Linked DNA regions of Homo sapiens. The protein of the gene in region 1 interacts with the protein of each later gene in a pairwise test. Each region holds a gene or a part of one and is shown on either strand. Other genes may lie near its edges.

The links. The genes of interacting proteins can lie anywhere in the genome.
Region 2: the proteins of ARL13B (region 1) and CD53 interact in binary tests that used the Homo sapiens proteins (3 or more experiments, as listed by UniProt).

What each region holds. Positions count from the first base shown.
Region 1 is NC_000003.12:94,051,283-94,058,519, reverse strand, and holds the end of ARL13B (ADP-ribosylation factor-like protein 13B), read right to left. Parts: intron 5,334-7,237; coding exon 5,257-5,333; 3' UTR 2,842-5,256; downstream 1-2,841. UniProt on the Homo sapiens protein: Cilium-specific protein required to control the microtubule-based, ciliary axoneme structure. May act by maintaining the association between IFT subcomplexes A and B. Binds GTP but is not able to hydrolyze fit; the GTPase activity remains unclear.
Region 2 is NC_000001.11:110,897,148-110,900,422, reverse strand, and holds the end of CD53 (leukocyte surface antigen CD53), read right to left. Parts: intron 2,615-3,275; coding exon 2,531-2,614; intron 1,300-2,530; coding exon 1,228-1,299; 3' UTR 501-1,227; downstream 1-500. UniProt on the Homo sapiens protein: Structural component of specialized membrane microdomains known as tetraspanin-enriched microdomains (TERMs), which act as platforms for receptor clustering and signaling.

The sequences.
Region 1 (7,237 bases):
TAAGAGCTAAATCCTCATCTGTCATATCAAGAAATCACTATATAATGTATAACATAATCAAGAAATGACTAAGTAGTTATGTGAAGAAAAGAATGGAACATTGCTAGAAGAGTTAGAAGTCATTGCTCCAGAGAATTAGGAGGGATGGGGCAGGGGACTGTTAGGATGCATTATAAACTGAAGAGGCTTTTAAAGATTACATGTATTAATATATGTATTCACTTGAAAAACTAAAAAAATAGTAATTTTTTAAAACCCATGGAGGTAACTACCAGAAGGAAAAACTAAGAGAATGAAAAGTGCTTTCCTCTGGAAAGAACAAGTCGCAGGACTGTTTTCATTGTAAGACTTTTGGAGCCATTTGATTTTACTTAACCATTTTCATATATTTCTTTAATAAAAATAATTCTATCTTAATAAAAAGTTACACTCATTCATTAAAAAAAGAATTTTAAGACTGTAATAAGAATCATAGTTTATTTCTGTTAGAGAAAGGCAATGTGTTATACTTGGAAAGAGGTCATATTAATTTTATCACATTTTTGGGACTCAGCATCTTTATATTTTCTGATTTTAAATAAACAACTTTGCTTATGAATTTTGTCTGAATCTCTAATAATCTCCTTATAATGCCTAGTTAATTATGCCCTTAGTTTGGGTAGGTTTTCAAATCTTATTAGTTATTTCTTTTTTAGATTACCGCTCATGTCCACTTATCTATAGGTGTCTTAGTATCATTTTATTTATATTTGAGATAACCATGTCAGATGTTAAAACACTTTCTCAATTTTTCTTATAACCATTTGACTTTAAGTGTGAAGGTATTTTAAAATTTTTTTTGTGCATTGTAAATTGAGTTTATTGATTCCACTGCTTTCAGGCTTATACATTTTTTCCCCGAGTGAAGCCACTTCTGTTTCTCCCCTTACCTTTTCATAGTTTGATCTTTTATGTTTAACCTCTTAATCTATCTAGAATCAATATATGTGTATCATGAGAATGTTAATGGATTTTACTCCCCATCCGCACCCCAAATAGCTACCAAAGAACAAACAATTCTACATTGAGTTTTAGGAATAAAAACTGTTAGCAGCAAACTTGAATTAAACCACTGCAGACATAAGACATTGAGCTGACACAAATAACATAAATCACATTAGTTTGTTTTTTGTGCTTTTTTTAATGTTAGCGTTAAAGAACCAAGCAGCTTAATAAGGACGTACCTCTAGGCAGGAAACAAATTTTTACATATCTAAGCAATTTTATTATAAGGTCAGTTGGTCTTAAGAAGTATTTCAGAGTAATTTATGGAATAACTCCTAAACTATGTTTTATGAATTTTCATATTTATATAAAATGTGTCAAAACCCTTCATGTTCATATAGAGGTTTATGTTGTCAAAAAGGTAAGGAGACGCTTTGTAGTAAAACAATATGACATCAAGAGAGCCCTGAGCTCCTTAAAATATATGGCAGAAAAACAACAGGAAAACACAACAGGAAACCTGTGATCAATGCTACAGAACACAGCATAGTTATAGGCAATCTTAGGCTTAAACGTCAGGTGAGATTCTCATTTTACTAAATTTCAGGGCTCCAATGTGGTCTGTACAAACTCCAGCAGACAATCCACTGTGTCTAGGAAGTAAATATAATGACTTTTATTTTTATTAAGCTTTATGTAGTCTTTTAAAATTTCTTTTTTTAGGGAAGTGTATTTAAAATGTACATAGTGCAGTAGAACAAGTATGTTAACTGTTATGGGCTGAAATTTGTCCCCCCAAAATTCACGTTGATGCCTTAACCCCCAGTACCTCAGAATGTGACTATATTTGGAGATGGGCCTTTACAAAGTTAAGTTATAAGAAGTCATAAAAAGAGGAAAATCGAACACACAGAGACAGTGGGGGTGGGTGGAGAAAAAAGGCCACGTGGGGACACAAGACAGTGTCTATCTATCAGGCAAGGAGGGGCCTCAGGAGAAAGCAAACCCACCAACTTGCTCTCAGACTACCAGTCCCCAGAACTGAGAAAATAAATTTCTGTTGTTTAAGCAACTTGTCTGTGATACTTTGTTATGGCCACCCTAGCAAACTAATACAATAACATAAACATCAATGTATATTAAAAATGTTTTCTGATAGAAGATATTATAATAAAAACTTGGAAACCACTGATCCACTTACCTAGGTTGTAAATGATTTCCTCATCCGCACACAGAAGGAACTTACAAGTTAAGCCCTCAACAAGCAAATGAACTTTTTTCCTATTTTCCATTTAATTATAAGCTGATCTCTTTCATTAAAGGAAGTTAATTTCTGGCTTTCTTTTTTTCCCCCCTCAAAAAACAGGTATCTATTATTCTGTTTCTGTAAAGATAAAGGATTATTGCTATTTTGATAACCTATGCCATGCTTAATTGAAAATTTTAAAATATTTGAATTTGTTCTTTGGATCAGTTGGAATATACTTCCTGATAAATTAATAAACCATTATTAGCAGAATCTCAGTTGCAAAGCATATTCCACTTAGCAAAAAAATTTACTAAGTAAAGCCAAGGATGATAAAGTTTATAAGCTACAGCTTTATATGTATAAACAATTTAGCTTGTGAATAGCTTTTGCTACCTAGAAGCATTTGATTTCTTTAGTTGTATTCTGCAGGTGAACTGCTCCACGATGTTCACAGGTTTTACATATTAAGGGAATTGTAGTCTTAATCTGGCATTTATAAAAGCACTTAATTTTAAACTTGCAGAAAACATGGTACTTAAATAATTTATACAATATTATAAATTTGCCTCCCTCACTACAAAAGTAAGCCAAACTACATTTCTTTCTAGTGTTGTTTCTATGCATAGTTTTATATTTGAAGTCAGTTACATACAATATCATGTATACTACGTAATATGCATTTTACACATAAAGGCACACAAGAGCCTCTTTTAAATACATAAAAACATATCTGTTGACCAACAGCTTTAACGCAAGACAGACATCAAATCCTCTAACATCATATGGTGAAATGCTATTTGTAGCTGCATTTAAAATCACAAATTCTTTCCCACATACATAAAAACTTGCAGAGAGAAAAAAGTTTTGTGTGTAAAGTATCAAAAAAATGCATTATTTTAATCTACTGATTTAAACTGTTTTTCAATAATCATATTTTAAAATCTTTACCTATTTTATTACCCAAAGGAAATCATTTAAATCTACCAATTGAAAAGAGAAACAGAATATTGATATAAATTATTTTTATTGTGTGAAAATGTCAAAATTCAGAATTAAGAATAAAAGTATAACATATAACAAAATAGGCATTTAATTGTTAAAATACACCTGGATTTACAAAACATTTTTTAAAATGTTTTTAAAATGCTTAAGGAATAAAAATTAATTTTTGAGAGAGCTATATAAAATGTGAATTCTATATTATATTTAATTTCAAAATCATTTATTTTTATTAAATGAAGCCAGTAGCTACACTATAGTAAACAGATAGAAAACACAAATTTTAAAAACACGTATACTCCCAAACGAGATAAATATTAAAAAGATAGCAAAAGTATGAGTTTAGTTTTAAAATTAAGTAAATGTTACAAAAAGCTATGCAATTTTCCCTCTAAAATCCTTTTCAAAGTTTACATTGTCTTTTCGTATTGCTTTTCATCACATTTCAGCCACCTCTCAAATTTAGGTTGTTACGAATTTTAGATCTGAAATCAAATGCTTTTACCTCACTCAGTGTGGTTGCTAAGTCCCATGTACAAACTCCAAGAATATATACAGTGCTGACTAGAGTACAGGTGACCTGATTATTAAAGTTCAGTGAGTTAAAAAATGTGAATAAAATCTGATGTTCTGAAGTACAATTTTTAAAGTAAATAATTATATTAAACGACATAAAATGTACTTAATGTTATCAGATACTAGCACATGTCTGTTGTGTCAGTACAAGTTACCAAAAGCACCAATCTTAACAAGGTGGTATAAAAATCATTCTGTTTATACTATTTTCATTGGATATAAAGGTTTGTTTTCAATTAAATGTAACATTATGAATCTATTATTAAAAATATACATCTAGAAGTTAGTCTAAATGCCAAATACAGAATCTTATGGATGCCATTCTTAAGTGCAAGAGAAGTGCTATCATTTTAAATTAAGAAATTATTTTGGAATTATTTATTTATAAAAGTAATTTTGGGCCAACATTTTTATTCTCATTACTTTAGTACACAAGCTGTTTCCCAGTTGTAAAACAGAAGTCTCTGGACCTGCAGTAGGTTTTCCAGTTTTTCTGCCTTTAATTTCATAGTTTAATTTCAAGGCATGAAAGAATTAGAATCACCTAAAAGAGTCACTGCAGCTTCTGATGGAACAAGGGAGTATAGGGAGCACCTTGATCTCTGAAAGTGTCTAACCTTTAAAATAGGACTTTACTGAGACTTTTAATAGTATCTCACAGAATGTATTTTGATTAATTTAAAAAACATTTAGGTACAAAAGGTATTTCCAGTCTCATTGAGTACTGTTTTCAAATCATGTAATTGTTAGAATAAAGATCTGAGAATCTACTACTTCGAAAATATATTATTTTTAAATTAGGTCAAATTACGATGTACACTTAAAGAACAACGCTATTACAAAACATACCTCAAGCCATATAAATATATCCTGTTTGTATAGTTCATGTCTGAAAGTAAATCAACTCTATTTTCCAGATATAATTTAAACAAATCATCTATAAAAAAGGTGTATAATCAATATCACAGTAATTAAAATTTTTAAAGATTTAAAAAAATATAAAAATAGTTTTAAAATTTTGGTTATAAATTCCTAGAAGTCCCCCTTCTATGTGCATATATCTTACAAAAAATATTTAATATCTAGAAATATAGGCTATTGAACAAATAGTAAAGAAAGTGCTGAGTCCATTGGCTCTTTTTGTAAAGTTTTCCTTCAGAAGTATGCTCATGAGTGGGGATGTATAAACCAGAGTCAACAGTAAATCTTGCTAATTTGGTCCAAATGCTGATTTCATGTACTGGTCATTGTGCTTCTTTTATTTTTTTAACCATGAAAAACACAAATAAGTAATTATCAAGTCAGGTCCTTGAGTATTAATCTTCTCACTAAAATTATTATGGTTATCTTGCCCCAGTCATCAATTTACAAGATGTTTCTTCTTCTGAGAAAGAAGAATGTCCCAGTTCACCTTGCTGATATTAAGAGAACTCCTCCATACGTCTTGTTTATGAGATCACATCATGAGCATCACTGTTAGGTCGCTGTGGCACAGCCAGGGGAGGCAGTGGCTTCCTATAGAAATCTAAGAAAAGAAAGAAAACCAAATGCACAAAACAGTTATGGTACATCAAGATTTTTGACACAGTTCATTATTTTTTAGACTTTAGACATTTTAGACATTTCCAAAGAGATAAACTTACAGAATCTTGACATGCCTCTCTAAAAGATTTCCTTCTCTCTCGTGCATTTTAAATCTTAAGAGATGGCACCAACATTCCATCCTGTTGAGCCAAATTATACTCTATTCCTTTTGCCTTCAATCCACACATGCATTAATCACATATTACTTATTATAATGGTTAAAATATTCCTTCCTTATGTTATACTCTCCAATCCAATTTCCATTCCTTACTTCTTACTTTGACTACTGCAATAGCCCCCAAATTTGGATTCTTACCCCAAATATAGCCACTATCAAGTTTGTACTTTACATTGCAACAAAAAATGTTTTTCTAAGCACCAAATATAATAGCATTTTCCCTTTTAAAAATAAAAGCATTTCTTTAAAAGTTATAGCAAGTTAAGACATCTTACCACATATATGAAGCCTTCACAATCTGGCCCTAAGCCATAACTCCACTTTCAACACTCTCTGTAATTTTATATTTTCTCTTTCTTACCCACTCAATGCACATAAACCTAATCTCCTGTCACTGGCAACTTCATGTTATTCTCCAACTAAACAATATTCTTTCCTAACTCTCTATCTTGAAATAGTCTGTTTCTTCTGCTTACTGACTCTTCTCATTCTTTGAAGACCTCGTTCTAATGCCACTTTCCCTAACTGCCCATGTACACAGTACTCCTACTGTGCACAGTACTCCAACTGTACACCATAGAACTCATTGTCATATATTCTACAGTAAGCTGAAGAATTGTCCTCTCTGTATAGTAGAATCCTCACAAAGGCAGAATGTACATCTTATTCATCTTGTTATTACCAATGTTTTAACAAACAAAATACTTGTATGTTAAATGAGTTCAACAGAAAAAATATGTCATATGAAAAATTGGTATTTTTTCTTCATATGTATGTGTGTACATATAAATATACACAGTAACATTAGTTTTCTAACAACATAGTGAATATTTATATTGACAATGTATTCTAACGTACACAAGTTCACTAAGAGTTGTGTAATAAAGAAATAAATCTACTGTAGTCAATATAAACATCACGATGTCAAGTCAGTAAACTAAACAGAGAGATGAGATTTCACTGAAAATACCACTTCAGTAATTCTGATGGAGTCTAAGGACAAACTTTTCTGTCTTTAAAAAAAAAAAAATTCATGAATTTTCACTAACGATTATCAAGAAATATTTCAATACTGACCTAAATAGAATTCTGGGGGAAAAAAGCAAATAGCACATTTATATTTAAGTACCTTTTAAACAAAAATATTTAAACTGGTTTGATATAATTTCAAATTATATGGTAATGCTTTTCTAAAGAGTAAACTTCTGAGTTTTTTCCTAGTAAGTGAAACCAAGTTCTAGACTAGGTAAACACAGAGCTGTCCAAAAAGGAATTGGATGTTCTTAACAAACAAGTTTATTGAACTACATTTATCTATAATTCTTTTGCATTCTAGAAATATTTTACTGAAGGGACCTAGACTGATGGTCTGTAATCAGAACTTCTCCTTGTTTTATAAGGCAGTTCTCTACTTCTCCTAAATATCCTTCCTCTAGTTTTTGCATCCTAGAATTCTAATGCCATAAACTATCTAGACTATAGCGTATGTTATATTCAAAGAAAACTGTTCTCTTAATTCAATAAAAATGTTAGTAACTTTCTACTTAGTCGAACTTTATTAGGTTTACTGATTTGATCTCTGATTTTATAAACTGTGTTGATCTTTACTTCACTTTAATGTTCAGCAGCTGGTTGTCTTATTAGGAGTAGAGAGAAAAAATTATGTG
Region 2 (3,275 bases), on another chromosome or scaffold:
TGCACTCCAGCCTATGTGACAAAGCAAGTCTCCATCTCAAAACAACAACAACAAAAACAACAAACTGTGGCTTCTGTTTTGGGTGCCGAATCTCATGCCCTTTCTTGGATGTCTTTAAATGGGGGGAAGCCAGCTTCCATGTCATAAGGAAGCCCCGTGGAAAGGCACAAGTGGCAAAGATCTGAGGCTTGCCAACAGCGATGTGAGAGAGCCTGAAAGTAGATCCTCTTTCAGTTGAGCCTTAAGGTTACTGCAGCCCAGGCTGACATGTTGATTGCAGTTACATGAGAGACTGTGAACCAGAATCACCCAGCTAAGCTGCTCCTAGATTCCTGACCCACAAAAACCATGAGATAATAAATGTTTGTTGTCCTCAGCCACTAAATTTTGGAGTAATATTTTATGCAGCAGGAGACAATTAATACACCTGGTTTGGTGCATTAATCAGGGTAATCAGGCTGGGTCATGGAAGGAGTGTTTGATATATAGCAATGTTGTGATTGAGATAATAAACTTTTATTTATTGAAGAGTAAAATAGTACATTAACAAAATCTTATCTGATAGAGAGATAATACCAGAAGTCTTCTTACTGTGATTATCAGCTAAGTGACTGGTTGAAATCAGGATATAAATCACTGGATAGTTTTTTTCTGGAAAGACTTAGAACACATCAATAAGGCCCTCTAATAAAGAAATTGAAATGAGATCTTGCCCTTTGGAGAAAGAGAACTGTGTAATTCCTGTAGCCAGGGCACTTAGTCAAAGAGAAACAGAGGGTTGTGACAATGGTCCAGTGAGCCTGGCCCCAGAACTCCCTTCAACTAGTCTCTTGCTTGACTTTGGGGAGAAGACTGGGCATTATTTAGAGGCTGGAGACTAATTCGACAATGGGAAGATGCAAAAATTCATATCCTGGGTTCACCCTTTGATGTTGGGCCATTAAATCCAGTTTGTCTTTGCCTCTCTTGTCTAAAAGATGCTCAGATATTAGTTTCACCACTTTGAGAGACATGGCTGCTGCCGTCAGTGAGTGAAAGATTGTCTTGCTGCCTGAGATGGGATGTGCCTGGCCAACACCCACTTCTCTGGTTGTATAAGACAGGGACCTAAAAAGGGAAAGGATGGGAGGAGGATCATCCTGCAGTGATCATGTAGGGCTTCATGCTATAAATGGTTTTGCATTTCCGGAGATGAAACAAGTCTCTTCACCACAGGACTACTGCAGATCATAGCCCTATGGTCTGGCTGGTTTTGTCAATCTGGCAGTTCAGGGTCAGTGCAAAGGACATCCCCAACACCTGTGAAAAGAGTTGGGAAAATTTGAAGTCTTCATAAGAAAAGCCATTTCTTTCACAATGCCTGGGATTGGCCTCTGAGAAAAAGAATGTATCCATTACACTGAAACCACCCTTCCAACCATTACTTTCAAGTCTCTCTCAGGAGCTCTTTCCTTTGGTTAAAGAATAGCAGTGAGGAGAGAAACGGGGTCAATGATGACAAGATAACAGGCTGTAAAGTACTGGAGCATGTTTTATCTTCTGAGGAAGTCACAGAAGCCTTGCTGCTAGGATGGTCATATTCTGCTCACTGAACACTGTGCAATGAGTTATCTCTATCCATGCTCTGTGCCTCCTTTGTTTCCAAACAGAGAAAAATCATTTTCTCTGAGCTTCCTGATTGAGTTTTAACTAATCTATGATATACCCAACACTTTGGGTAGAAAAATGTTAGAAATATCACATTATTTTTGTCCTTTTTTATTAAAAAGGACAAAAAACTACCCTCAATTCACCCATCACTTGTCAAACTAAGCACAGAAACAAAGAGGAAATTGATTACAATTTTCGTCATCAGCCCCTTAACATGCAAGATCAGGTTTTCAAATGAAATACTTTATCAATTCGTATTTTTCAGACCAGCTGAGGAGGGATCACAGTGGGATTCTGCTTGGTGGCTTTTTTGTTTGACTGTGAATCATGTGAATCACTCATATCTCTGAGGAATGAATTGACCAGAGAGATGTTCTTTTTTTTTTTTTTTTTCTGGAGACAGAGTCTCGCTCTGTCGCCCAGGCAGGAGTGCAGTGGCACGATCTTGACTCACTACAAGCTCCGCCTCCCAGGTTCACGCCATTCTCCTACCTTAGCCTCCCAAGTAGCTGGGACTACAGGCACCTGCCACTACGTCTGGTTAATTTTTTGTATTTTTAGTAGAGACGGGGTTTCACCATGTTAGCCAGGATGGTCTTGATCTCCTGACCTCGTGATCTGCCTGCCTCAGCCTCCCAAAGTGCTGGGATTACAGGCGTGAGCCACCACGCCCGGCCAAGAGATGTTCTTATAGCACATTTTCTATATACCTTAAAGCAAATTGTTAATTACATTATTTGCTACTTGGCTGGGGGAATTCATATATTAGTAAAAATAGCTAACATTTATTGTGTAAATACTGTGTACCTGGTATTATTCTGAAATCTTACCTGACTTAACTCATGTAATCCTCACAATAACCCTGTGGTTAAGCTCTTACCTCAATCACACATACACAGATGGTGATGATTCCGATATACAGGAAATTGGAATGAAACCACAGTCTTGCTTTCGCATAGCAACCCTAGAAGACATTTCAGTTACAAATGATACTACTCTATAATTCCACCATATCAAGAGGAAGTATTTGGAAGATACAGTGCTTTGCATTTTGCTTTATGTAATACAAAGAGGCTTAGGTATTATATTTTTATTTTCTTTGCGTGAATGAAGAAACAGGCATAAGGTGGGAAATATTAAACTACAGACTTTTCTGGTGGTGTTATCATTACAGTGGTAACTAATGTAGAAGTCCTAGATCCTTACCCGCTGAGTTAAACTAGCTTCTAAGAGGCAGGTCAGCAACCGACGTCCTACTGTCTTTGAACACTCAGTGCTGACCAGAGATTAACATAGGGCATGCAATACTAAAATTGGTTTGCATTTCACTTTCTGCTTCAACATTCAGTAAATCCATCATAGCCCTACCAAGTGCCAGGGCAGTTGCTGGTCAGTGGTTGTCCTAGTCTTTCTCCACAAACCTGAAAAACCCTGGAGATTTCCAAACCCCTTCAGGAGCAGATAACATGAGGAGACAAGACCTCAGGGATTCGGTCTAGTTGGAAGATAGTTGTGGCTTCTTCTCAGAGCCTATTCTGGAGGTCCAAATTAATTGGACAGGTTGTTTCAGTAGTTCCACTAACTCTGTCTCCCTCAACTCCTTACTCCTTCACCTATGATTCATT